Regions from separate parts of the Homo sapiens genome. Here regions 1 and 3 are each linked to region 2. The links come from fine-mapping of genetic effects on gene expression. A gene starts in region 2. Each other region holds a variant in brackets. All regions are shown on one strand. Distances are between the middles of the regions. Region 1 overlaps ALPL (alkaline phosphatase, biomineralization associated). Region 2 holds the start of ALPL (alkaline phosphatase, biomineralization associated). Region 3 overlaps ALPL (alkaline phosphatase, biomineralization associated).

What was found. PIP is the estimated chance that this variant, and not a neighbour inherited with it, causes the effect.
Region 1: its variant is fine-mapped to the expression of ALPL in whole blood (TOPMed, PIP 0.96).
Region 3: its variant is fine-mapped to the expression of ALPL in whole blood (INTERVAL, PIP above 0.99).

What each region holds. Positions count from the first base shown.
Region 1 is chr1:21,545,214-21,553,376 of GRCh38, reverse strand. All of the region lies in intron 1 of ALPL (alkaline phosphatase, biomineralization associated), which reads right to left. Among named protein-coding and RNA genes, the nearest start is that of LINC02596, 37 kb to the left of the region's middle. The variant A/T (reference allele first, on the strand shown) is at 4,874.
Region 2 is chr1:21,504,720-21,512,881 of GRCh38, reverse strand. It overlaps ALPL (alkaline phosphatase, biomineralization associated), which reads right to left and starts at 3,459. Exons shown (of 12, transcript NM_000478.6): 1 at 3,365-3,459. RefSeq lists enhancers at 2,376-2,945, 2,946-3,516 and a silencer at 3,552-3,651.
Region 3 is chr1:21,558,125-21,566,301 of GRCh38, reverse strand. It overlaps ALPL (alkaline phosphatase, biomineralization associated), which reads right to left. Exons shown (of 12, transcript NM_000478.6): 3 at 5,557-5,676; 4 at 5,090-5,205; 5 at 3,018-3,192; 6 at 2,086-2,261. Among named protein-coding and RNA genes, the nearest start is that of LINC02596, 24 kb to the left of the region's middle. The variant T/C (reference allele first, on the strand shown) is at 3,652.

The sequences.
Region 1 (8,163 bases), 40 kb before region 2:
AGAGATATAAAAATGGTAGGAGTCACATATGTGAAAAAACTGGCTGGTAAGTGTGGCCATTTCTGGGTGGTGACATCACAGACAACTGATTTTTCTTTTCCATTGTCTTTTCTGCATTTCCAAAATTTTCTTTTGTGCTGAGATACAGTATTATCTTTACAATTTTTAAAAAATATATATATATTTAAAGTCGGATGTAATTGAAGAGTTTAGGTGGAAAAAAAAACTGGAAGGAAATACACCAAAACATTAACTGTGGTTTTCTCTGGGTGGTAGGACTATGAATGATTATTTCCTCTTTATTTTTTTGAATTTTCCAAGTAGCCTAAAACAAGCATGTATTAATGGCATAAGAATGTTTTTACACTGTGGTCTTCCTGTTAAATCACAAAGAACAACCCCACTGGCAGCTGAGAAATGTACTAACCCTGTTGCACATGAGTTACAAGACAAAGAATTTTAAGTGGCAAGAGTTTCACTGGGAAATGTTATTGCTTCAGCCAAAACCAAGATATGACACCATTTGTTGTGGGAAACAGCAGTAATACACACTCTACCGTTAGAAAAGTGTTGTGACAGATAAGACACCACTCTAGTCCAATTATTATATGTTAAGTAAAAACAAAATAAAACATTTTTTAAAAGTTGTTTAAAGAAAAAAAGCCAGGCATGGTGGTAACATGCCTGTAATCCCAGCTACTTGGGAAGCTGAGGCTGGAGGAAGTTCGCTTCAGGCCTGGAGTTGGAGACCAGCCTGGGCAACACAGCGAGACCCTGTCTCTAAGAAAAATTTTTGTATTTTAATTTTTTAAAAGTTTCTTTTCTTTTTAAAAATTCTTCTCTTTGCAGCTCCAGCTCAAAGGAAAAAGATTTTTTCTTTTTCTTTTTTTTTTTTTTGAGACGGAGTTTTGTTCTTGTTGCCCAGGCTGGAGTGCAATGGCACAACCTCGGCTCACTGCAACCTCCGCCCCCCGGGTTCAAGCAATTTTCCTGCCTCAGCCTCCCGAGTGGCTGGGATTACAGGCTTGCGCCACCATGCCCGGCCAATTTTGTATTTTTAGTAGAGATGGGGTCCATGTTGGTCAGGCTGGTCTCGAACTCCCGACCTCAGGTGATCTGCCCACCTTGGCCTCCCAAAGTGCTGGGATTACAGGTGTGAGCTGCCGCGCCCATCCAAGATTTTTTTTTTTAATTTAAAAATAGAGAAAAAGAAAAGGAGAAAAGGAAGGAGGGAGGGGAGGGGAGGGGAGGGAGGAAAGGGAAGGGGAGGAAAGGGAAGGGAAGGGAAGGGAGAAAAAGAAACCACTACCACCAGAAGAAGGATCTTGATTCAACCTTAAAAACACGCAAATGGCCGGGCGCGGTGGCTCACGCCTGTAATCCCAGCACTTTGGGAGGCCGAGGCGGGCGGATCACGAAGTCAGGAGATCGAGACCATCCTGGCTAACACAGTGAAACCCCGTCTCTACTAAAAATACAAAAAATTAGCCGGGAGAGGTAGCGGGCGCCTGTAGTCCCAGCTACTCAGGAGGCTGAGGCAGGAGAATGGCGTGAACCCGGGAGGCGGAGCTTGCAGTGAGCCGAGATCGCGCCACTGCACTCCAGCCTGGGCGACAGCGAGACTCTGTCTCAAAAAAAAAAAAAAAAAAAAAAAAAACCACGCAAGCTGCGCTCCAGTGCCAGAAGTGACGGCTCTGGGGTAGGGGCTGGGGGTAGCGGCGCAGAGTGGAAATTAAAAGGCAATATCCCACATCTAACATCTAACAACACTTAACTGTGAGTGGTAGAATTTGGAATTTCAGATGATTCCTACATTTTTTTTTTTGTTCTACTTTACGGTTTCCAAATATTTCTATAGCAAATCCTAAAATCAGAAAAATGTTATTAACTGAATACGAAATACTAATTCATTAAACTATTATTTAAAATCACTTAAAAATGAAGTCACCTCTTTCAGGAAGGCTCCAGGATGGTCACTCACTCATTCCAATATAACACCACTGAGCTTCATGCCACCTCAAACATCGCATGTACCTCTCTTTTTGAAGGTAATATAGTTCTTTCCTGGGCCATCTCAGCTGCCACACCGGGAGTTTCTAAGTGTGAGGACTTTGTCTTGTTTGTCTCTGCCCTCCTAGTGCTTGGCATAGTAAATATTTACATCAGTTGAAAGCCAGTGCCCTAAGGAAGGTTGTGGGGGGAAGGGAAGAGCCATCCAAAATTATCTTCTCTGTGTGTGCAGGAAAGTCCAAGAGTTCGTGAAGATGTTTAACTACCGGAAGGTCCGCTCGCCGTTGGTGGAGTGCAGACAGGCACAGCGCATGGGAAAACCGGCAGGATCTACCGAAGCTGATCATCCTACCTGTACCCTGGGACCCGTTTCTCTCCAGCAGAATGTGCACATCAGCCCTGTTTATAATGGCTTCAAAACTGCCTCCATCTACGGCAGGCTGGATAATACATTGTGTGTGTTCACAACACAGAAACCACCACAGACAGCAAGGAGAATGGATGATCCACAGCTCCTCACAACAACATGAATGAATCGCACAAGGTAAGCTTGAGCAAAGGAAGCTAAACCCAAGAGCACTTACAGTGTGATTCCGATGACAGAAAGTATAAAAACTAACCCAGGGCGTTGGGAGACAGAACGGAGGCTCCACGTGGAGGGTACGGAAACGGGAACGGGCTGCTGGGGTGCTGGTGCGGTTCGGTTTATGATTGATCTGGGTGGGTGGGTGCTGGTTACACGGTGGGTTCAGCTGTCAATGTATGATACACACATTTTTCTCTACGTGCATTTTATTTCAATAAAATAAATACTACTCTTTGGGAGCTTACATGAACAATCTATAAAGGATACTGACAAAATGAAAGCAAGTCTATGTGCTGCACTCCATAGTTCATAAAGAATTTCACCATGATGTTTCACTAATCAGCTATGCAGTGGACAGAAAAGGACCTATCATCTCCTTTTACAGATGAGAAAACCAAGGCTCTGGACGGAGACTTGCCCAAGGTTACCAACAGGAAGTTGCAGAGCAGAAACCTGACCACAGGGCTCCTGATTCCAGAATTAGCAATCAGGTTACCATCAGTCACCCCCTCCAGAGGGAGGGATTTCTGTTGCCCCCAAGTGTAAAATGAGTGTTCTGACGTTTGACACATGGATAGATTTATGTAACCACCACCGCCACCGTCAGGACCCAGAACAGCTCTGCCACCCCAAAAATCTCTCTTGCGTTCTTTATAGTTACACAATCCCCCCATCCCTAAACCTGGCGATCCCTGATCTGTCCTCCACCACTGTGTTTTTGATAGGTATGGTATTAAATCCACAGATCAATGTGGGAGGGTTTACGTCTATACCACATGGAGTTGCCCAGTCATGAAGACACCACGTCTCTCCACTCATTCAGTCAGAGTTCTTCGGTTTTATCAGCACTCTGTAGTCTTCAGCCTGTAGATCTTGGATATGTTTTCTTAGATTTATACCTACGGGTTCCATCGTGTAATGGTTAGCATTCTGGACTCTGAATCCAGATTTATACCTAAGAATTTTGCTTTTTGGGGAACTATTGTAAATGGCAATGTTTCTGAGCCATATACTACCGAGCCAAGTGCGATGGCTCACACCTGTAATCCCAGCACTTTGAGAGGCTGAGGCGGGTGGATCCCTTAAGGTCAGGTGTTTGAGACCAGCCTGGCCAACATGGTGAAACTCTCTCTACAAAAATTAGCTGGGCATGGTGGTGTGCACCTGTAGTCCCAGCTACCTGAGAGGCTGAGGCAGGAGAATCACTTGAACCCAGGAAGCAGAGTTTGCAGTGAGCTGAGATCGCATCACTGCAGTCCAGCCTGGGCAACAGAGTGAGACTCCATCTCAGAAAAAAAAAAAAAAGAAAAAGAAAAAAGCATTCAGCCTTTCGGCGTTTGGGGTGGTCTTTTGAGGCGTGAGGTGGAGACAATCAGGAACTTGTTTTTGGATATGTTGAGTTGGAGATGTCTTTTAGAAGTGGAGACACTAAGGAGGCAGCTGAATATTTGGCTCTGGCATTTGAAAAAGAAGTCTGGGTTAGAGTATAAATTTGGGAATCATAGGCACAGGGGTGGCAGTTAACACCCTGATCAAACTTGACGTGCTCACCTAGGGAGAGGGAATGGGGTCACAGAAAACGATGTGACAGAAGCCCTCAGCAAACCAGGTATTGAAAAGAATTTCCTTAATCTGATAAAGGCTTTATGCCAAGAACCTGCAGAAACCATCATACTCGCTGGAGAAAGCTTTGGCAAACTCCTTTTAACACTGGCTTATGATGGTGAGGAGCCGGGGCAGTCTCGTCCACAACTAGGGAAATGAATTAGTAAGGAGTGGTGGAGGCAATGTCTGCGTGGCAGTGGTATTAAAACTAGATGTCCAAACAGCAGCGTGGTGGGGTCTAAAGGCAGAGGACTGAGTGATGAATGTAAAGAATCAAACGCAGTGTATGTAAGTGCAAACCACCCCCACGGACAGAATGCTGTGTAACGTACAAGGACACTTACAACTCCAAGGCCATATTAAGTACATTAGCATAGGGACTTCGGTGAGCTGTGGGAATGGCAGTGGGGAGGCAGGGAGCAGGGACAAAGGAAAAAATGAATAAACAAAACAAGAACTGAGAGCTTATTTGGGTATGTCATGTGCTAAGTGAGATAACGTATCCCACTCTCTCTGCACTGAGGGTCCAAAACAGGTGAGCGAATAAAGAAAAATAAAAGTGTAGTGACCCGGGAGCACTGAAAGGCTCATCCAGCCCCACATGATTATTCTTCCGGTTATTGGTCTGTCTCTCCTCCCTGCTAGCCTGAAGCTCTGTGAACGTAAAGACCA[A/T]CATCTTACCCATCTCTGCATCCCGAGCCCTTGCACATGGTAGCAGTTCCATAAGTGCCACCAGTTCAGGCTGGGATGCTCTGAATTTTGGCCCCAGGGATAGGCATTGAGATAGGCTTGGCCTGGAGGCAGGTGCCTTCTCCCATAGCCTCCGCTCAGGACAAGGAGAGGGTGGGGACCTGGGAAAGCCTTCAGAACCCAGAGCCTCCCTGCTGGCCCCACCCCTAGGACCCCTCCCCCTCGCAGAGGCTCCTGGCTGCTCTGTGGCAGCCCTGGAAGCGGAGGGGCCCAGTTTGGGGCTGTGGGGGCCCCGGCTGCCCACCACCCTCTGCCAATGTCTGCCAGCTTAAAATGGGGCCTCCGGGTGTGTGTCAGCCCCATCGCCACCCCCTCCCTCCCTTCTCTGCCAGGCTCCCGGCTCCTCCGTAGCCTGATTACGCATGGCCAGTGCAGAAGCCCCGGCTAGGCTGTGGCGCCAGAGGAGCAGCTACTTGGCAGTTCAGTGCAGGGGGCTGAGGAGCCAGGCAGGCCTTAGCTCTGAGGACTGATTCAGCAACCCAGGCAGAGGGCCCGGGAGCATCCTGGAGTGGGGCAAAAAGCCAGCCTTGGGCTGGGTCTCAGAAGATCTGGGGCAAATGATAGAAGAATGGGACAAACGTGTCACTACCATTTCTTAGGCCCTCATGTTCCACTCAGCCCCATGCTGTTTACATCCCTGATCTCACAATATGGATGAAGAGCCCCCGTTTTGTAGCTTAGGAAACCCAACAGAGGGTTTGGCTAGTCTTCGACTATGCGCCATTTAAGCCCAGGCTGACGCCAGGGCTCAACCTCTCCGGGCCTTGGTTTCCCCACCATGAAGAGTAAGAGAAATGAGTGCCCCGCTTGCTCCATCTCACGAGAACAAATGGAAGCTGAACGAGCTTAGGGCAGGGAATTTGGCGGGATGCAGGGGGAGTCAGGCCAGCTGAGTTCCCCTACCTGAGCGGCCTGGCCAGGCGGCAAGTGAAGAAACAAAGGAGGCCCAGGATCAGCCCCAGGAGGAGGAGGCTGAGGGCCACCGTGAGGACCACATCCAGGATGGGGGACAGGAGGGCCATCTTGGGGCAAAGAGGGCCCCTGGGAGCAGCCACCACGCCCTGCACACACTCGGTCACACTAGCTCCAAAGCCCTGGGTCAGTGGCCGTGACCCGCTTTATCCCTGGGTTAATCTTTGTGGATTAGTCAGAAGGGATGAAACGGGGTGCTGGGGTGGGAGGGGGAGCAGGCTACGAAGCTCCTCTCTCCCATTTGAGCCCCGGGGGAGGGCCCGATGCTTGTTCATTCAACTTTGTTCATTCATTCCTCACTCCCAAACACCTACAGAGCACCTGCTGAGTATCTCTGTGCTAGGTTCTATGGAAACAGTCGGGAACGGGACAGAGTTTCTGTCAGCTTGGAGGTAACTGACCAGCCAGTGTGGACAAAGCACCTACTGTATGCTAGACATTGTGCCAGGTGCCCTGTGGGGCAAAAACATGGAAGGGAACCCCTTGGCTAGTAACACAGTAGGTTTTCCCCTAACAGCAGCAGCTGTTCCAGCCCATCTATGGGCCTAGAAATCTGAGTTGGTGCTTACCCCAGCCAGAGGGATGCACCCATGCTCAGAAGAAGACGAACTGCTCTTATTGAGCACCAACTGTGTACCAGGCCCCATCTGGGCTAGGGACTAGTATCCCCATTTGCAGAGAAACAGAGGCTCAGAGGTGCAATGGTGGAGTTGGGATTTAAGCCCAAATCTGGGGGTCTCCACGGCCCGTACCTCAGAACTGAGATAGCAGCAGCCTACGGAGGCTTTAGTGAAGCCCTGCCAGGCGCTGGCCTAAAGCCAGCAGTCACCCAGGAGGCAGCACACACAGGCTGGAGGTGGACGAGCTGTTGCCAGCACGGAGGGGCCTTTTCTGCTTCCAAAATTGTCTCCCCAACCCAGATCCAATCTCTCCTAAAACATCCTGTGAAGTCAGGAGAGTGGTTATGATTCCCATCTCACAGATTCAGAAACGGCCCAGAGAGGTCAAGCCACTTGGATATGCACAGCTGTGCACCATTAGACCAGGCCTTTTCTGATCACACTTCCTGTCTCCTGGTACACCTCAGATCCCATGGTCCAAAATACCCAAGGTCAGGAGGAGACACTTTTACCCTCTTGGTGCCAAGGAAAGTCCCCTCTTCTTGACCCCAGAAAGGCCACTGACCTCACCATAACAGGAAAACTAATCTCGTTACTCCATTACGCCCTTTTCTTTCTCAACATTCCCGTAACTCAAATTGCGTCAGATCCTCACAACATCCTAGTGATACTGGCAGGGTGGGGATTATTAGCCCTATTGATAAAAGAAAAACTTCAGCTGAATTAAATTTAAAAGAATTGCCTGCAATCCCAGCACTTTGGGAGGCTGAGGTGGGTGGATCACGAGGTCAGGAAATCGAGACCATCCTGGCCAACATGATGAAACCCCGTGTCTACTAAAAATACAAAAATTAGCTGGGCATGGTGGTGTGTGCCTATAATCCCAGCTACTCGGGAGGCTGAGGCAGGATAATCGCTTGAACTAGAGAGTTAGAGGTTGCAGTGAGCTGAGATCGTGCCACTGTACTCCAGCCTGGCAACAGAGCGAGACTCTGTCTCAAAATAAAATAAAATAAAATATAAAAAAATAAATTTAAAAGAGTTTAATTGAGCAATGAACGATCTGCAAATTAGGCAGCCTCCTGAGCCGGAGTAGGAACCAGCGCAGCCACTTAGTAGAAGAAGATTTATGAACAGAAAAGGAAAGTGAGGTGCAGTCAGATTGGTTACAGCTTAGCACTTGTCATTTGAACACGGTTTGAACAGTTGGCGACATTTGATTGGCTAAAACTTGGTAATTGGTGGCTGGGCATGGTGGCTCACTCCTGTAATCCCAGCACTTTGGGAGGCTGAGGAGGGTGGATCACCTGAGGTCAGGAGTTCGAGACCGGCCTGGCCAACATGATGAAACCCTGTCTCTACTAAAAATACAAAAATTAGCTGGGCATGGTGGCAGGCGCCTGTAATCCTAGCTACTTGGGTGGCTGAGGCAGGAGAATCGCTTGAACCCGGGTGGCGGAGGTTGTAGTGAGCTGAGATTACAATGCTGTACTCCAGCCTGGGCGACAGAGTGAGACTCTGTCTTAAAAAAAAACAAAAACAAAAACAAAAACAAAAAAACCCCCAAAACTTGGTGATTGGCACAAGTGTAGGCTATAGTCTGTTTACACCTCTATTTCT
Region 2 (8,162 bases):
CTCTCATCTCAAATTTTACCCCTTAATTTGAGAAGTCAAATTCAATGCAAACAATTGATTTCATGCCACAGTGAGGCTGAGAATTTAAGCATGGAAAACTTTAAGCATAGAGTTTTTCTGGGAGCAATTAACGAAGTGTTGGCGGGGGGGTTGGGAGCTGGTACAAGGAGGCAGAAAAATACGGAGACTATGTTCTTCAGACACTGAGCATCATATCTTGATGTTGGGGGCCTCCTATGAGCTTGACACTCAGAGAGGTAAAGTGACTTGCCTCAGGTCACACAGCTGGCGATTGGAATCCAAGACACCAGCCCCCAAACCAGTGTTTTCCCTGCTGTGTAGGCTTTTGTGACCTAAACGTGGACTTCCCTCAGGCCCTCAGGATCACCTGGTAGGGATAAAGTTAACTGCTTTTGAAATTGCTCCACAGGAAATATGAATGTCTTAATAACATCAATGCTGGTTCAGCCCAAAGTTGGAAAACCATTTATGATCTTGCGACCCTGCAAAGTATATAATTTTAACCCATATTGCAGATGAGAAAACTGAGGCTTCGAAAGGGAAGGTGACTTGTCCAGGGTCGCATGGCAGTGCTGGGAATGAACCTTCAGTCTACTGCCCCTAACTGCCCTCTGAAAGTGAGGACATCTCCAGAAGAAAAAAAACAAATCTAACATACCACAAAGCCCAGCTCCAGCCTGCCAAGGACGACGACATGGTGCTGGGAAGCCAAGTCAGCATTCCTGTGGCCACATGGAGATTTCTGAGTGCTGGTTCTCAGCCCAGCTTGCTCACTCTCCCAGCAATGTTCTCTCAGAGCTCTGGGTTTTGTATTAAAAAGCCAAGTCAGACTGATTTCAAGGTGAGAACTCGGGCTCTGCTACTGGATCCTACTCCCTGGATTAAAAGGCCTCATATGCCCAGAGATGGGTACAGCATGGAGATTGCTAGATTTGGAATTCTAGATACGCAGGCTCCAGCCCCAGCTCCTCAGGTAGCATCTGTGTGCCTCTGGGCAACTCACTTCCCCTTTCCAAGATCATATCCAGCTTGCAGGGAATGTTGGGTATGTAAGTCATGGGACAGAACAGGGCTGAGTTTGGTCCTGAGCTAGGACACGGTGAGGCACAAGAACAGGCAGAGGGCAGGAAGCGCTGCAGAGATGATGGCTCCAGGGCTGATCTCATCATGGAGCTCTGCGCTCCCAGCCCAGGCTGTGTTTAGGATGGCGACAGAAGGTGGCATCTGAGTGTGAGCAAAGAGGGCACCATGCCACCCCACATGTGTAGCCCAACAGGATGGGAAGGGCCTGGGCAGAAGTGGGTAACAGGTTCAGAGGCAGGGTAGGCACATAACCCAACTTCCAGTCTCCGCATTGCATTTTCTGCTGAGAAGAGAGCTGAGGATAGCCAGGATTTTCTTAAGCACAGGTACCAGCTTAAACCCTTCGCAAGCATTCATCATATCTAGACCTCACCACTGGTAGGCACTATTGATCTCCACAGCTTATGGGAGGAGGCCGAGGCACAGAGAGGGAACAGAACTGATCCCAGGTCCCACAGCAAGGCTGCCTTTGCTAAAGTGAGGGCCAAAGGTTGGCCAATCCATTTTACAGGTGATTGCGTCTTAATCTCCTTCCTTATGAATAGCTTGATTTCAAGTCTACACTGTGAATTCTGACAGTTTCAAAGCCTGAAAGAATTTTGTTATGCAAACATCCAATCCAGAAGAGGGCTTTTGGCTGATTTACTGTGGCATTCCCGGCACCTAGAACAGAGCTTGGCACACGGCGGATGCTTAAGTATTTGCTGAATGAAGATAGCATCTTGTTCTGGCCTCAGTTCAGTTTTATTCCTCACAATAGTCCCGAAAGGGGAATACACCCCTTTTTACAAATGGGCACATGGACCGGGATCATCACTCAGCCTAGTCTTCACCAGTTGGGATGTTGAGAAGCTGTGTCCAGGGGCCTCTTCTGAGGGAATTCACAGGTATTCAGTTAAAGAAAGAAAAAGGTGACACAGGAACAAGATGCATGGGGCCAGGGAGTGGGATGGCTGGGGCAGGACAGCGTGGGGACACCCACAGGTGGGGAGGACTAAACAGTTGGAAAGAGCAAGACTGGAGAGTGGAGGAAGAGCGGGCTGAGCCCAGGAGGAGCCGGAAGACAAAACCAAGGCTCAGCCCCCTATCTCTTAGGCAACACAGTGGGAGCAGGACGCTAGGGCTGCAGAGTTTGGAGTCTGGATTCAAACCCTGGTCCCACCACTTACTTAAATTGTCTAAGCCTCAGTTTCCCCATTTGTAAAATGAAATGATGTACATGAGATGTCAGAGCAGGTCCCTCTACGCACGGTAGGCCTTCAAAAAACAGTTGCAGTATCTACACTGAGGCTGGGACCCAACCCCTGCCTCCCTGGGCAGCTGGGCCCACCTGAGCGGTCTGACTTTTTCCCAGGGCCCAAAGCCCTTCCTGGCCCAAGAATCGCCCCCTCTTTTGATCTCAAGGAATTTCACCCTCCACCCAGAGGCCTTTGTAAAGGCCCCGCCTTCGACCCCATTATGTGTTGAAAAAGAGTCATAAGGCACAATGGGGAGTGGGGGAGGCTTTCCTCGGCCTCCTGCCTTTCTGCTGAGACCTGCGTTTAACCCTTTCTTACCAAGACTGGGCAGGGAAGCAGCCCTGGGAGGCCCACCTCGCAAAGCCTAAAGGGGGCGGCAGGCTCCTTCGGCTTCGCGGGCTCCAGAGCTTTGCCCCACAGCTGCGGTGCCCACAGTGGGTGCCCACACTTTGACACCCACGCGGGTGTCCTCTGTCTCCTCCCGCCACGCCCCCCATTCCAAGCGCCTCCTGCCCTCTCCTCCTCCCAAACCAAACTGCTTTAGACCCCACCGGGTCAGGTGGGACGCCTGGGAGGGCGCCAGGCCACGAGGCCTTGGGGTTGGCAGCCCAGGTCTCTAGAGCTACGGCTAAGGAGGCACCAGGAGGGGCTCAGTCACGGGGCACCAAGGGCAGGTGCCCAGACAGAGCGCAGGGTCCCAGGCAGCGGCTCGGGAGGTAGGAGACCCTGGGACTGCAGGGCGGTCCCGAGCGCGGTCCCCTGAGTTCGCCGGCTCCGCGGGCGCCACGTCCAATCTCCTGTCCCGCCCAGAGCGCGCGCCGGGAGCTTGGGATGCGCGGGAGGACAGGGGCAGGACCAATTGCAGGGCGTCCCGAATGGGCTGCTGTGGGCGGCGTGGCGCTGGAGACCCCGGCCCTGCCATTAAAGTTCAACCACGGGGCCAGCGGAGGATGCAGAAGGGGATGGACCACGTCCGCTGGGGCCCTGGGGAACCAGGGCGCGGGGCAGCGTCGAATCCTTACCTGCGCAGAGCACTGGCGAGGGTCCGTCCAGGCACAAGCGCGTGGGAGCACGGAGCCAGGATAGCGGGCGCGGAGTGGCGGGAGCGCAACGCGGCCCGGGCCACCACCCCCGCCGCCTTATAAAGGCGGCCGCGGGGCCCGAGTGAGGCCCGGGCAGCCCGCCCCCTCCCCCGCCCCCGGCCCCAACCCCTCCCCAGCCCGGCCCCGGCCCCGCCCCCGGCCCGAGCCCCGCGCCCCGCGGGCCGGTCGTGCCACGAGGCCAGGGCGCCCCCTGCCGGGAGCGGAGCTAGGAACGGGCTGGGGTGACGCGGCCCTGGCGTCCCTCGCCCGCCCCGCACTCTCGGTCTCTCTGCCTCCGGGCTGCCCCAGCCCAGCCCTTCCTCTCTCAGCGAGCCTGGGCTCTGACCTGCTCCTTGCGCGCGTCTCCTGTTTTGTCTTTACCGTCGGCATCTTCCTTCTGCGTCTCTTGGTGGGAGTCTTTGTCTCCACCCGTCTCTTTGTCTGCCTTCCTCTCTGGCGTCTGTCTCTGTGTCTGTCAACATATCTGGCTTTCTCTGGGTCTCTGTCTTTATCCGTCTCTGCCCACGTGTCCCTGTCTCTCTGTCTCTGTCCACGTGCACCTCTGACTCTGCACCCCCACCCCCGCTTCCCTGCCCGTGGGCTGCCTCCCTGGCTACCGCAAGAAGAAGCAGAAGGGGACCTCGGAGGGGTGGCATCTGGAGGGAAACCACCCCCTAGACAGGGGCCCTTCCCTCTTTCTCTCTTTAGAGACGTAAAGGGCCCGCAGGTGTCCGGCTATGTCCCAGCCAGAGCCCCAGGACATGCTCCCTGGATGCCAGAGGAGGGGCAGGCACTTCCCAGGCAGTTGAGTCAGACAGCTCAAGTTCAAAACTCTGCTCTGGTGACCTTGGCCAAGTCACTTGACCTATGTGGACCAGCCTGCCCCTCTTTAACAGGCAGACACCATCTCCCCTGGCCTCTCGCTGGTGCGAGAGTCATATGAGACAGTGCTTGAAAACTACAGAGGAAACGCTAAAATCCCGGATAGACGGGAGCCAGGGACAGAGGCTGGGTGCTACAGGCCCTGCTCCCGCTCCTGGGGAACCAGCTCTGATGGAATAACCACTCCCTTTCCTCTGAGCACTGAATTCTCTGGGCAACTTCGCAGTGAGAAGTCCGCAGGCTCTGTTTGAATGCCTCCAGCGACAGAGCTCACTGACTCCTAACAGGAGGGTCTTCTCAGTGGCCCTTGGGAAAATGTCTGCCCAGAGAACCAATTTTAGCCAGGTCAGGCAACCTCTCTTCCACTCACTCCATGCCAGTCTCAGGGCCAGGCACTGTGCATGCATTAACTTCCAAAAGCTCCATTTTCCAGAGGAGAAAACTGAGGCCCAGAGAGATCATGTGACTTCTCAGTAAGGTTGGAGCCAGAACTGGGGCCTGGTGCCAGAAACCAAGAATGTCTTTGTATTTATTTTTGTTTCTTTTGTATTTTTGGTTGATACTGTTTATTTAGAGGCGTGACATAGGTTCCCTTTTCAGATAAGTTTATGTTTTTTAAAAGTGAGTCAAAATATTGAGTAAATACTATTTATTTATGTATTTCATGGGTTGGGTGATATGGCAAAAATCATGGAGGTAGCAAATGAATGGAGTTTAGGAAATACCATCCTCTGTAAGAAATTGCAGGTGAAAGCACCCAGCACTGGGCCTAAAACATGGGAGGGGCTCAATACTTGCTCACAAATGCCAAGGAAGGGTTTAAGGATTCCAGGAGACTTAAGATGGTATCATCATCAGTGAGCCAGGGGCAAGTCCCCAGGCATGGAAAATCTGCCTGTTGCTTGGACAGAGGCTGGGAGGCAGAGCCAGAGGGAATTGGAGGCACCCATTGCACCTATCATGGGGCCAGCACCCCTGACTTTTTTTTTTTTTTTTTTTTGAGACAGGGTCCCACTCTATTGCCTAGGCTGGAATGCAGTAGCATGATGTCAGCTCACTGCAGCCTCGACCTCCCGGGCTCAAGTGATCTTCCCACCTCAGCCTCCCCAGCAGCCAGGACTACAGGTGTGCACCACCACGCCCGGCTAATTTTTGTATTTTTTTGTAAAGAACAGGGTTTTGCTATGTTGCTCAGGCTGGTCTCGAACTCCTAAGCTCAAGTGATCCCCCTGCCTCCTTATCCCAAAGTGATGGGATTACAGGCATGAGCCACCACACCCGACCCTATCCCTGACTTCTGATCTCCCCAAAGCTATGAGGGACGGGCACTTCTGGTTGAGCCACATGGCCAGCATTAGGTCCCCCATGTCTGTGATTTGCCCTCAAGTCCCTCCACCTCGGGATTTCAGGGATTGGTTATCAGCAGCAGGGACTATACTGCTTGGCCAGCCCTGCCACCTTCCACCCTCAAACCCTCTTACTCTGCTCCTGGGCTGGGTCCCTCAAGGAGAATTCAACTGAGATGGGGCATCCAGCAGCCCTTGCCTCCCCTGCTCCCCGGGTGCCCCTCCTCCTGGCTCTGTCAACACAGCGGAAAGAAGTCCTGGACCTGGAACCAGGAGACTCCAGTCCATCCTCCAGCTCTGCCCTGGCTTGCTGGGGAGCTGAGCAAGTCACTTTTCCCATCGAGGTTCAGATTCCTTCTGGCCTTTTGAACTGGACAATCTCTAAGTGCAACCCAGATGCCATGATTTCAGGACCACTCAGCTGGTGGCAACAGCTCATTACATTCGATTTCTCTCCATCATTGTCCCTGGGGCACCACTTCCTTGTTGAAAACTAAACAAATTGGATTTAACCTCCAAGCTCCCTGTGCCTAAGAGCTAATGATGTCTTTTGAGTCTCACAGCAGTATCATAAGGTGGGCAGGGCAGGTGTTTACAATCCCCACTATACATGGGGTACACCAAGGCCAGAGATAGTAGTTACTTACAGGTCAGGGTCAGAGCTGGGTTTGGTTACCAGGTTTACTATTCCCAGTCCAGGGCTTTTTCCATTCATCCATTTATTCCGTATCTGTTAAGTGCATGCCATGAGCCTGTGCCGCAAGCTAGACCTTCAAGTTCACTAGGCAGGCCAGGCATGGTGGCTCACGCCTGTAATCCCAGCACTTTGGGAGGCCAAGATGGGAGGGTCTCTTGTGTCCAGGAGTTAGAGTCTGCAGTGAGCTATGATCACACCCCTGCACTCCAGCCTGGCCAACAGAGTGAGACTTTGTCTTGGGAAAAAAAAATTTAAGAGGTTCACCAGGCATTAGAATTAGAAGCTAAGTTAGGCCGGGCGTGGTGGCTCATGCCTGTAATCCCAGCACTTTGGGAGGCTAGGCAGGTGGATCACCTGAGGTCCGGAGTTTGAGACCAGCCTGGCCAACACGGTGAAACCCCGTCTCTACTGAAAACATAAAAATTAGCCGAGCAAGGTGACGCACACCTGTAGTCCCAGCTACTTGGGAGGCTGAGGCACGAGAAACGCTTGAACCCTGGAGGCAGAGGTTGCAGTGAGCTGAGATCACGCCACTACACTCCAGCCTGGGTGACAGAGTGAGACTCTGTTTCAAAAAAAGAAAGGAAAAGAAGAGAAAAAATTAGAAGCTAAGTTAGAGATGAGGCCAGAAGCCCAAGAGCATAGGGTAGGGTGGGGCAGGGGGACAGCCAGGACCTCAGTAGACAGAGATAAAGGAGAAAGAAAGGAGAGAGACAGAGAAAACAAAACTCTGAGGTCTGTTCGTGGAGAGGCGGTGAGGAGTCAGCTGTGGTCTAGGGCTGGAGAAAATAATCCCTGAAATCTATTTAAAGGCAAGGGGGCCTGAAACCTTGGTCTGTTTTGATGCTTGGACTAAAGGGGTCATTTTATCTCAAGCCCAGGCCTGAGCACAAGTTCAGCCATTTGATTCCCAGTGCCACCTACAGCCCCACCTTTAACTCAGTTAAAAAATGAACCAAAAGGCATGAGGTGGAAGAGACTACGACAGCCGAAGCAGCATCATTAAACCGACAATGCTGCCGTGGCCAGGGCAATTGGACGCTAATAAAAGTAGGGACTTTTATTCTCTCTTCACGGATGAGGAAACTGAAGCATATATGAGCTATTGTTGCTGGGGACTCCCTCTGTGTCTGCAGCCTGATGGAAAGATCTTTATAGGTGAGATTTAACTTGCTCCTCCCTGCAACACCAAAGCACCATCACTGTTGTCATCGTCACCTTTCCAGTGAGCAGGCTGTTATCCCAGGCAGACTTGGCAACCTTATTCATTCAACAAATGTTTATTGGATGCCTGCTCTGCAGCAGGCACCCTTCTAGGAACTGGACATACCAGTGAACAAAACAGAATGTTTATCCTCACGGAACTGACACTTTAGTTGGGAAGGTAGATAATAAACAACAAACATTAATAAGTAAGTTAGTAAGATAACAGGGGCCGGGCACAGTGGCACACGCCTGTAATCCCAGTACTTTGGGAGGCCAAGGTGCGCAGATCACTTGAGGTCAGGAGTTCGAGACCAGCCTGGCCAACGTAGAGAAACCCCGTATCTACTAAAAATACCAAAAAAAAAAAAAAAAATTAGCTGGGGTTGGTGGTGCACACCTATATTCCCAGCTACTCAGGAGGCTGAGGCGGGAGAATCACTTGAACCTGGGAGGCAGAGGTTGCAGTGAGCCGAGATGGTGCCACTACACTCCAGCCTGGGCAACAGAGGGAGACTCTGTCTCTAAATAAATAAATAAATAAATAAATAGGCCGGGCGAGGGTGTTCACGCCTGTAATCCCAGCACTTTTGGAGACCGAGGTGGGCGG
Region 3 (8,177 bases), 53 kb before region 2:
AAAATAATAATAATAAATAAAATGCAACTAACATCCATCCACAGACCCATCACAGGAGGAAAGGCAGTCACCCAGGGAAGTCCCCAGCACCCAGGGGGTGGCTGCCACTGGAAGGCATTTCTATTGCCAGAAGGAGTGGGGAAACAAGTGGTTCAGAGAGGCAGAGTCCTTGCTCTCAGCTGCAGCCAGGAGCTCAGGGGGCAGGGTGGGCTGGGAGAAGAAGGAGAAGGGGACCCCAGGTCACGGGTCCCTTGCCCCGCCCCCCACAACTGTTCCCACAGAACCTGACCTCTTGGCATCTTCAGAGTGGAAAACGAAGCCCCCAATCTTCCTGCAGGGAGCCTCATCGTTTCCAGCCCGGCAGCGACTTCACACGGGCTCATTAAACTCCCAAATAACAGACTTGCTGTTTGGCTTTGGGGTTTAGGTTTGTGTCTTTCTTTCTTTCTTTCTCTTCTTTCTTTTTTTTTTTTAAGCAACAGTATTTATTTTCAGGGTGGACACCAGGATTTTTGTTTCATGTACAGTCTGGGGACTGGGAGGCTTTTGGGGGGGTGGTGACGGAGAGGCAGGTGGGGCTGGGAGAGAAAGGAAGAGGAGGAAAGAAAGGGATCCTCACACAGGTCCTCCGTCCTCACTCACTCCCTGGCTTGTGCCCCTTGACGTGGCCCCTGCGGCCCCCCCTCCTCATCTCCCACCCCCTCACCTGAAACATCTTCCCTCCCCTCGAATTTCCTTCAAGTTCCTGTCCCCTGCTCAGGCTGTCCCTGACAAACCCCTCTGAGGAGCAGTCCCCATGTAATTATACCCTGTGCCTGTACAACAAATGTTCTCACATCCATGACCTCATCACGGCCTCCCACGGCCCTGGGAGCAAGCAAGTGTGGCTCTCTGTTTCTGCTGCACAGGTGGGGAAACTGAGGCATAGGGAGGGGAAGGAACTCGCCCCAGGCCACATGTCGGGTGAAGGCAAGCCAGGATGAGTGGCTTGGCCTCAGATGTCTGTTCAGTGAAAGGGGCCAACAGCACTGTGTGTCCTGAAAGCGGGTACTTAATCCACCATGCTGGGAAAAGGGCAGACGTGGGTCTCTACTGTGGAGGGGCCAAGTAGCCCCCAGAAATTTGTGGGGGGCAGTGCATGGAGGGCTGAAGGCAGGTGAGTTTGTCTGGTGGTGGAGAGAAAGAGGTGAGGTGTAGCTGGGCAGGGGGGCTTTCTCTGCCCCTCACCGAATCCCCATTCCAGGCTCAAGGGGCAGAAGTCCCCAGATCGCCTCAGCAGTCCCCCACAGTAGGCAATAAAAGCCTGAAAAGGAACGAGCCGGGCATTCTCACTTAAGAACAGAGAGTAAGCGTCACATGGATGACTTCTGTCTCCATGAGTCAGCTCAGTTTGTTGAAGTGTGTTTCAGGGCAAGGACATGTGGCTCCTGCGTAAGTGCCACCACCTTCTGGGCACTCGCTAGGCCTCGGGTCCTGTGCTGAGCTCCACAGGGATTATCTTAATCAGTTCTTGGCATAAGCTTATGAGGCAGGTACAGTTCACAAAGGAGTTGTGAAAGGGAAGCCTCAGAGAGGTTAAGTAACTGACCCAAGGTCACACAGCTAGCAACACGCAGGGCAAGGTCTGGAACTCGGAAGTTTAAACACGAGAGCTGGCACTAGCCAACCACTGTACACACCAGCTCTTTGCCGGGCATGCTGGTGGTTGAGTGTACAGATATGTACCCATCTGTGACCATGTGAATACGCAGGGCAGGCAGACGACACTTGGCCATCACCACCTCCCGTGTAGTGGGGGGCAGAGGAGGGCACAGCACCAGGTTTCAATTTATGGAATCATCCCTGGATGCCTGGTTCTTGGGGTGTGGTGGCGGTCACATGAGGGTTCACCCCGCAGCCCCACCGCAGAGAAATCCCACAGTGCCTGCCTGCCCAACCGCAAATCCCCTAATGGGCTGGGAGCCTCCCAGGTGTGTGGGGAGCCAGGCCAGGCTGCTTTCTCCGGGCCAGCCTGGGCCTGAGGCCTCCTGCCCACCAGAGGCCCCGCCTCACCCCGTCCCTGCCCGGCTGCCCCCGAGCACTCACGTCAATGTCCCTGATGTTATGCATGAGCTGGTAGGCGATGTCCTTACAGCCCTGGCTCAAGGCCTCAGGGGGCATCTCGTTGTCTGAGTACCAGTCCCGGTCAGCCGAGTGGGCGTAGGCGGCGCTGGGGGTGGCATGGTTCACTCTCGTGGTGGTCACAATGCCCACAGATTTCCCTGGGGTGCAGGAGGGGCGGGTTTGGCTTTATCCACAGATCGGGGTGTCCCAGAGGCCTCCTCCCTCCCTTCCCCCTCCCCGCTAAAGACAGGCCCCCGCTTCAGTTCTGAGGATTGCCCGGGTCTCAGTCTCCCCATCCACAGCAGCAGGTGTCTGGCAGTGGCTTCCAAGTAGCCGAGCAGCCAGAACACTGCCTCTGGAACCCTCTCCCCTCACCCCGAAGGCCCTTGAGATGTGAGCACCTGGGCTGGAGTCCTCCCCTTCATCAAGGCGCCCACAGGACCCCTGAGGGATCTCAAGTGGACTGTGGCTCTGTCACCTGTATGTTGGCCTTGTCACCTGTGTTTTGGCCTTGGCCCCTGACTAAAGCTTCTGGGGGCACAGGCTGGGCCTCCCAATTCTGAGGAGGGAAGGGGCGTGGCCATGGACTGCACCCCACAGGCTAGCCCTGGGCTGACTTCTCCCTCCTCACACCAACCCTATGAGGGGGCTACGTTCCCACCCGTTTTATAGTCAAATGAAGAATCGACTCAGAGAAATGAACTGGGACCAGAACCCACCACTGAGTGAACCCCAAACCCTCAGCTTCCCCTGTCACGGAAGGAATCCCATGGATATTACAGACTCCCAGCATATCAGAGCTGGGAGCCCCACAGAGAAGCCTTTTCTAGCCCCTTCCCATGACACAGTCAGAAAGACTGAGGCCTGGACAGGCCACGAAGCTGGCCCTGCTCCCCACTGCTCCCCCGACTCACCAGCGTCCTTGGCCCAGCGCAGGATGGAGGTGACCTCGTTCCCCTGGGTGGTGTTGCACCGGGAACGCTCAGTGGCTGCGCTTACCCCCACGGTGCCCTCATTGGCCTTCACCCCACACAGGTAGGCGGTGGCGGTGCCGGCACTGTCAGGGACCTGGGCATTGGTGTTGTACGTCTGCAGGTGGGAGAGGAGGGTCAGGAGATGGCCAGGCCTTCGCCCCAGTGGCACCCACCCCGCCTACACTCACACCATGGGGACTGGGGCGTGAGGGACCAGAGAGGACCCCATAGCCTTGACCAGGCCCACTGCCCACTGAAGCCCCCCAGAGCCACAGGACTACCTAGCTGCCTGCTTCCTGCCATCATTCCCTGCACCCTGGCAGCACTGGGGCAGGACCTTAGCTCTCCAAAGTACAGAGAAGTGTCCGGCGGAAGATTGGGGCTCAGGTGGGGTCAGCGGAGGCCTCTCTCCGGGCCTGGGGCTGCAGGAGCCAGCAAGGGGTTGGGGAGCAGGGGAGTCCTGGAGAAGGGAGAGGGAGGGGCCTTCTTGAAGGAGTGGGGGGTCTGGGGATAGGGTAGTGAAAGTGAGGGGGAAGGGGACTGGGGAAGGGAAGGGTGGGGCCAAGACCAGCGC[T/C]GACTTCTCTGCCACCTGCCCTGCGGCCACCATCACAGGGTTGCCCTACATCCGGATGTTTAGCAGAGACCCCAAAACTATTTGCCTGTCTCCCTTCCCCACCAGCCTGAGAGCACCTTGAAGGCACAGAAGGCACCATAGTCCCCACTACTCCCCCAGAAGTGAGCCTGGGGCCTGACCCAGGGTCTGGAGGTTATTACATAACACCACTATCACCACCACCAATAGCAATAGCTACCCGGCAGTGCACACTGCCTTGAACAACCTAGGTCAGTACAGGCACACCTCATTTTAGTGTACTCCACAGACACTGTGTTTGTTACAAATTGAAGATCTGTGGCAACCCTGTGTCAAGCAAGTCTATCAGCATCATTTTTTCCAAAAACATGAGCTCACTTCATTAGCGTTTTTTAGCAATAGCATATTTTTAAATTAAGGTATATACATTTTTTTAGACATAATGCTATCCCACACTTAAAAGACTACTGTAGGGTGCAAACATAACTTTTATATGCACTGGGAAACCAAAAAATGTGTGACTTGCTTCATTGCAATATTTGCTTTATTACAGTGGCCTGGAACCAAACCCGAAGTATAGCTGAGGTATGCCTATAGTCTAATTAACTTCACGAACTGCCTCGGGAAAGAATGAATGAACTGGAACTTCATGCAAAAGTGTATACAGGCCAGGCACGGTGGCTCATGCCTGTAATCCTAGCACTTTGGGAGGCCAAGGTGGGCAGATCACCTGGGGTCAGGAGTTCGAGACCAGCCTGGCCAACAGGGTGAAACCTTGTCTCTACTAAAAATAAAAAAATTAGCTGGGCATGGTGGCGCATGCCTGTAATCCCAGCTACTTGGGAGGCTGAGGCAGAAGAATCACTTGAACTCGGGAGGCAGAGGTTGCAGTGAGCTGATGTCATGCTACTGTACTCCAGCCTGGAAGACAGAGTAAGACTGTCTCAAAAAAAAAAAAAAAAAAAAGGCATATATAGGCCGTGCATGGTGGCTCACGCCTGTAATCCCAAGACTGGGAGGCCAAGGCTGTAGGATCGCTTAAGCCCAAGAATTAGAGACCTTGGGGGGGTCTCTAATTATCCATATGTGGTGGTACACACCTGTAGTCCCAGCTACTCGGGAGGCTAACGTGGGAGGATGGCTTGAGCCCAGGAGTTGGAGGCTGCAGTGAGCTATGACTGCACCACTGCACTGCAGCCTGGGCAACAGAGCAAGACCCTCTCTCTAAACACACACCCGCAAGCAGGTACAGTGATGCTATGGTGTCAGAAGTCAGGGCAGTGGCTGCTCCAGGTGGGGAGTGGGCTTGGGCATGGAGGGGGCTCAGGGGGTCAGGGGACCTCTGGCTGCTGTCATGTTCAGATGCTCGACCTGGATACTGGATATACAGACCTGAACTGGGCTTGGGGATGGGGCTCACCTTGGAGAGGGCCACGAAGGGGAACTTGTCCATCTCCAGCCTGGTCTCCTCCCCAGGGTTGTGGTGGAGCTGACCCTTGAGGATGCGGGCAGCCGTCACTGTGGAGACACCCATCCCTGCAGTGGGGAGTGGGGGCCTCAGTCTCTCGTGCTCCTGCCTCTCCAATCAGCCTGCTTGGGTACCCAGAAGCTCTCTAGTTCGGTACCAAGGCAGGCTCGGGCAGTTGGCACTGGGCATGGCTCTGTAAATGTCAGTGAGCAGCCCCTCTCTCCCTTCACCCCCAGATCCTCAGGGGGCTGTCTGGCAGAGCAGGCCTCTTGAATCCACAGCCTGGCCCCTCATCCTTTTAAACACCCTTCCTCCAGAGCCCTAGCCCCTTCAACACAGCCCCCTTCAACTCAGCCTGGCTCCCGGGGCTCCTAGCTAGGTGTCCTGTTCCACCCCTCCCACAGGCCCCTGGGCCTCACCATCTCCCAGGAACATGATGACATTCTTAGCCACGTTGGTGTTGAGCTTCTGAAGCTCCAGGGCATATTTCAGTGTCTCTTGCGCTTGGTCTCGCCAGTACTTGGGGTCTTTCTCTTTCTCTAAACACAGAGAGAGGCAGTTACTTGGCGGGGTAAGGATAGCCTCCTATCTCCAGACGTACAGATCCCCCCACTTCTGATTGCTCAGGCTGGAATGCCTGAACTTGGAGGTGGGTGCAATAGTTGCCCACCCAGACAACACATCTGTGGTTTATAAATATGTGCCATCCAGATCCTCCAGAAAAGCCTGTGGACCCTGGGGTCTTCTCCTCACATCTCAGAATGAAGAAACCAAGGCTCAGAGACAACGAGCAACTTGCCTAAGGCCACACAGCACAGGCAGACACTGGCAGGGCTGGGTTTCGCTCCAAAGCCCATGCTCATTCCTTCTACCCAGTAGGGAGATGAGCTGCTAAGGCAGCAAATGAATTGTGCTAGCACAATTAAGAGAGTAATGTTTAACCTATTCAACAAACTCCTTCCAGCAGAAGGGGTCCCCTGATATAGCCAGCCATCAATTATCAACTCTGCTTAGCTTATTCATTAAAGTAGGCTCAGCAGGAACCTGACTTGGTTTAATAGCAGTGCTGGAAAGCGAAGCTTGCCTTTTGCTTAATATGTCAAATTTAAAGGAGCCAGGTGATCTCACTCTTGTTAGGATTAGTTATCAAGGACGACATTCTGCATCTCTCATCGCCCCCTCCATCCCTCTTGGCTGATAGTGACTTCTGGCTGGGGCTTTATGGTTTTGAGATAAAATGAGAACTAAGAACACTTCTTTCTCTCTCCCTCTTTCTCATGTGTGTGTGTGTCCAGCAACCAATCCACAGCTTTAGTGCCAGACAGACCTCAATTAAAACCCCAGCTGCTGGGCATGGTGGCTCATGCCTGTAATCCCAGCACTTTGGAAGGCCGAGGCAGGCAGATCACCTGAGCTCAGGAGTTCGCGACCAACTTGGGCAACACGGTGATATCCCGTCTCTACTGAAATATGAAAAATTAGCTGGGCGTGGCAGTGTGCACCTGTAGTCCCAGCTACTCAGGAGGCTGAGGCAGGAGAACTGCTTGAACCCGGGAGGCGGAGGTTGCAGTGAGCTGAGATCATACCACTGCACTCCAGCCTGGGTGACAGAGCTAGACTCCGTCTCAAAAACAAACAAACAAAAAACCCCCAGCTGCTCCAAGTACTAGCTCTGTCACCTCCCTCAGCCTCAGTCTCTTCCCCTGTTAAATGACATTGCTGGCATCATCCCCTCAGGGTCGCTCTAAGGACTGGGCCGGATAAGGCAAGTGACACACCTGACCCACAGGAGAGGCTCAAAAGTTGCCTCCCATCCCCATTATCCCGTCTCCAGGGCTGGACCAGGACCCTGGCTATGGGAGCTGGAGTCCCTCCCAGAGTCTGCGGGGCTCCCCTCTGTCCCAGGGCCCTATCAGATCTGCTCAGAAGCCTAGAGAGGAGGCTCCCTAGCGGTTTCCTCTTTCAAGGCCTCCCACTGCACAGAACGGGAGGAGAGATCAGGAATGGGAGGGTCTTGTCCAAGGCCGTGTAGCATGTTCGTGGGCTGGGGACACAATTCTCATCTTTTGGCCCAGCTCCGACGCGTGCCTGGCTCTCGGAGTGGCCGTGGGTAAAGAACAGCCCTCCTTCCTCACACACGCACTGGCTCTGGGCGAGATGCCAGGGACCCCCCACACAGCTTCTCTTATTCCTCTCAACTGCCTTGGCAGGTGGGCACCAGTGTCTCCTCCACATTAGGAAATGGAGAGCCTGAGATTAGGGCCCCAAGTGGGAGAACCGGAAACTCACGCGTCGCCGTGGCTCTGCCCCAGCCTAGCATAGGCGCAGAGCACAGGCGAGGAGCCGCCAGGGTGCTGCAGTGCACCTCTAGCTTTGGACCCAAGCACACCCCACGCCCCTCCCCAAGAGGCCTCCCCTTACGTCACCACCACCCCAATCCCTCAGCCCACTACCCTCATCCCGACAGCCCCAGGTCCACCCTCTCTCTTCTGGAAGTGTCTGCTGAGGGCATCAATTTCAGATGTCCCCACGCAGTCCCCACTGGGAATTGGGAGCACCTTGGCCCTTCTGCCCGACAGGGTGCCTTTGGACAAGAGTTTCTGCCCCAGGAAATGGGACACCCGTAGCTATCCACAGGCAGTTCTAGGATGACATGAGATAAAGTCTGGGCAAGGCCGGGGCCAGAGGTTTTCCTCAGAGGTCCCCCAGGCCCAGGCTGGTTCCAGCCTCCCTCCTGCCTTCCTCAAAACACACCACGGTGCTGTTGGTCATAGAGCCTCTTTGGCCAGTTGGGTGCCACTGGGTGGTGAAGACCTTCTACCCACCCTGACCCGCTACAACCTGTACCTGACTTAACAGCTTGGAGGTCCCAGGGCTGGGCTGACATCAGCCCGCCCCACACCTGTTGCCCTTGTTCAGCCCAGCCTCTGCCACCGGGTCCCCTGCTCCGTTGAGTGCTTGTTCTCTCTAGACTGGAGTCCCACAAGGGCAGAGTCCTTGTCTTTTTCACCAGAGCCACCCAGGGCCTGTCCCTGAGAAG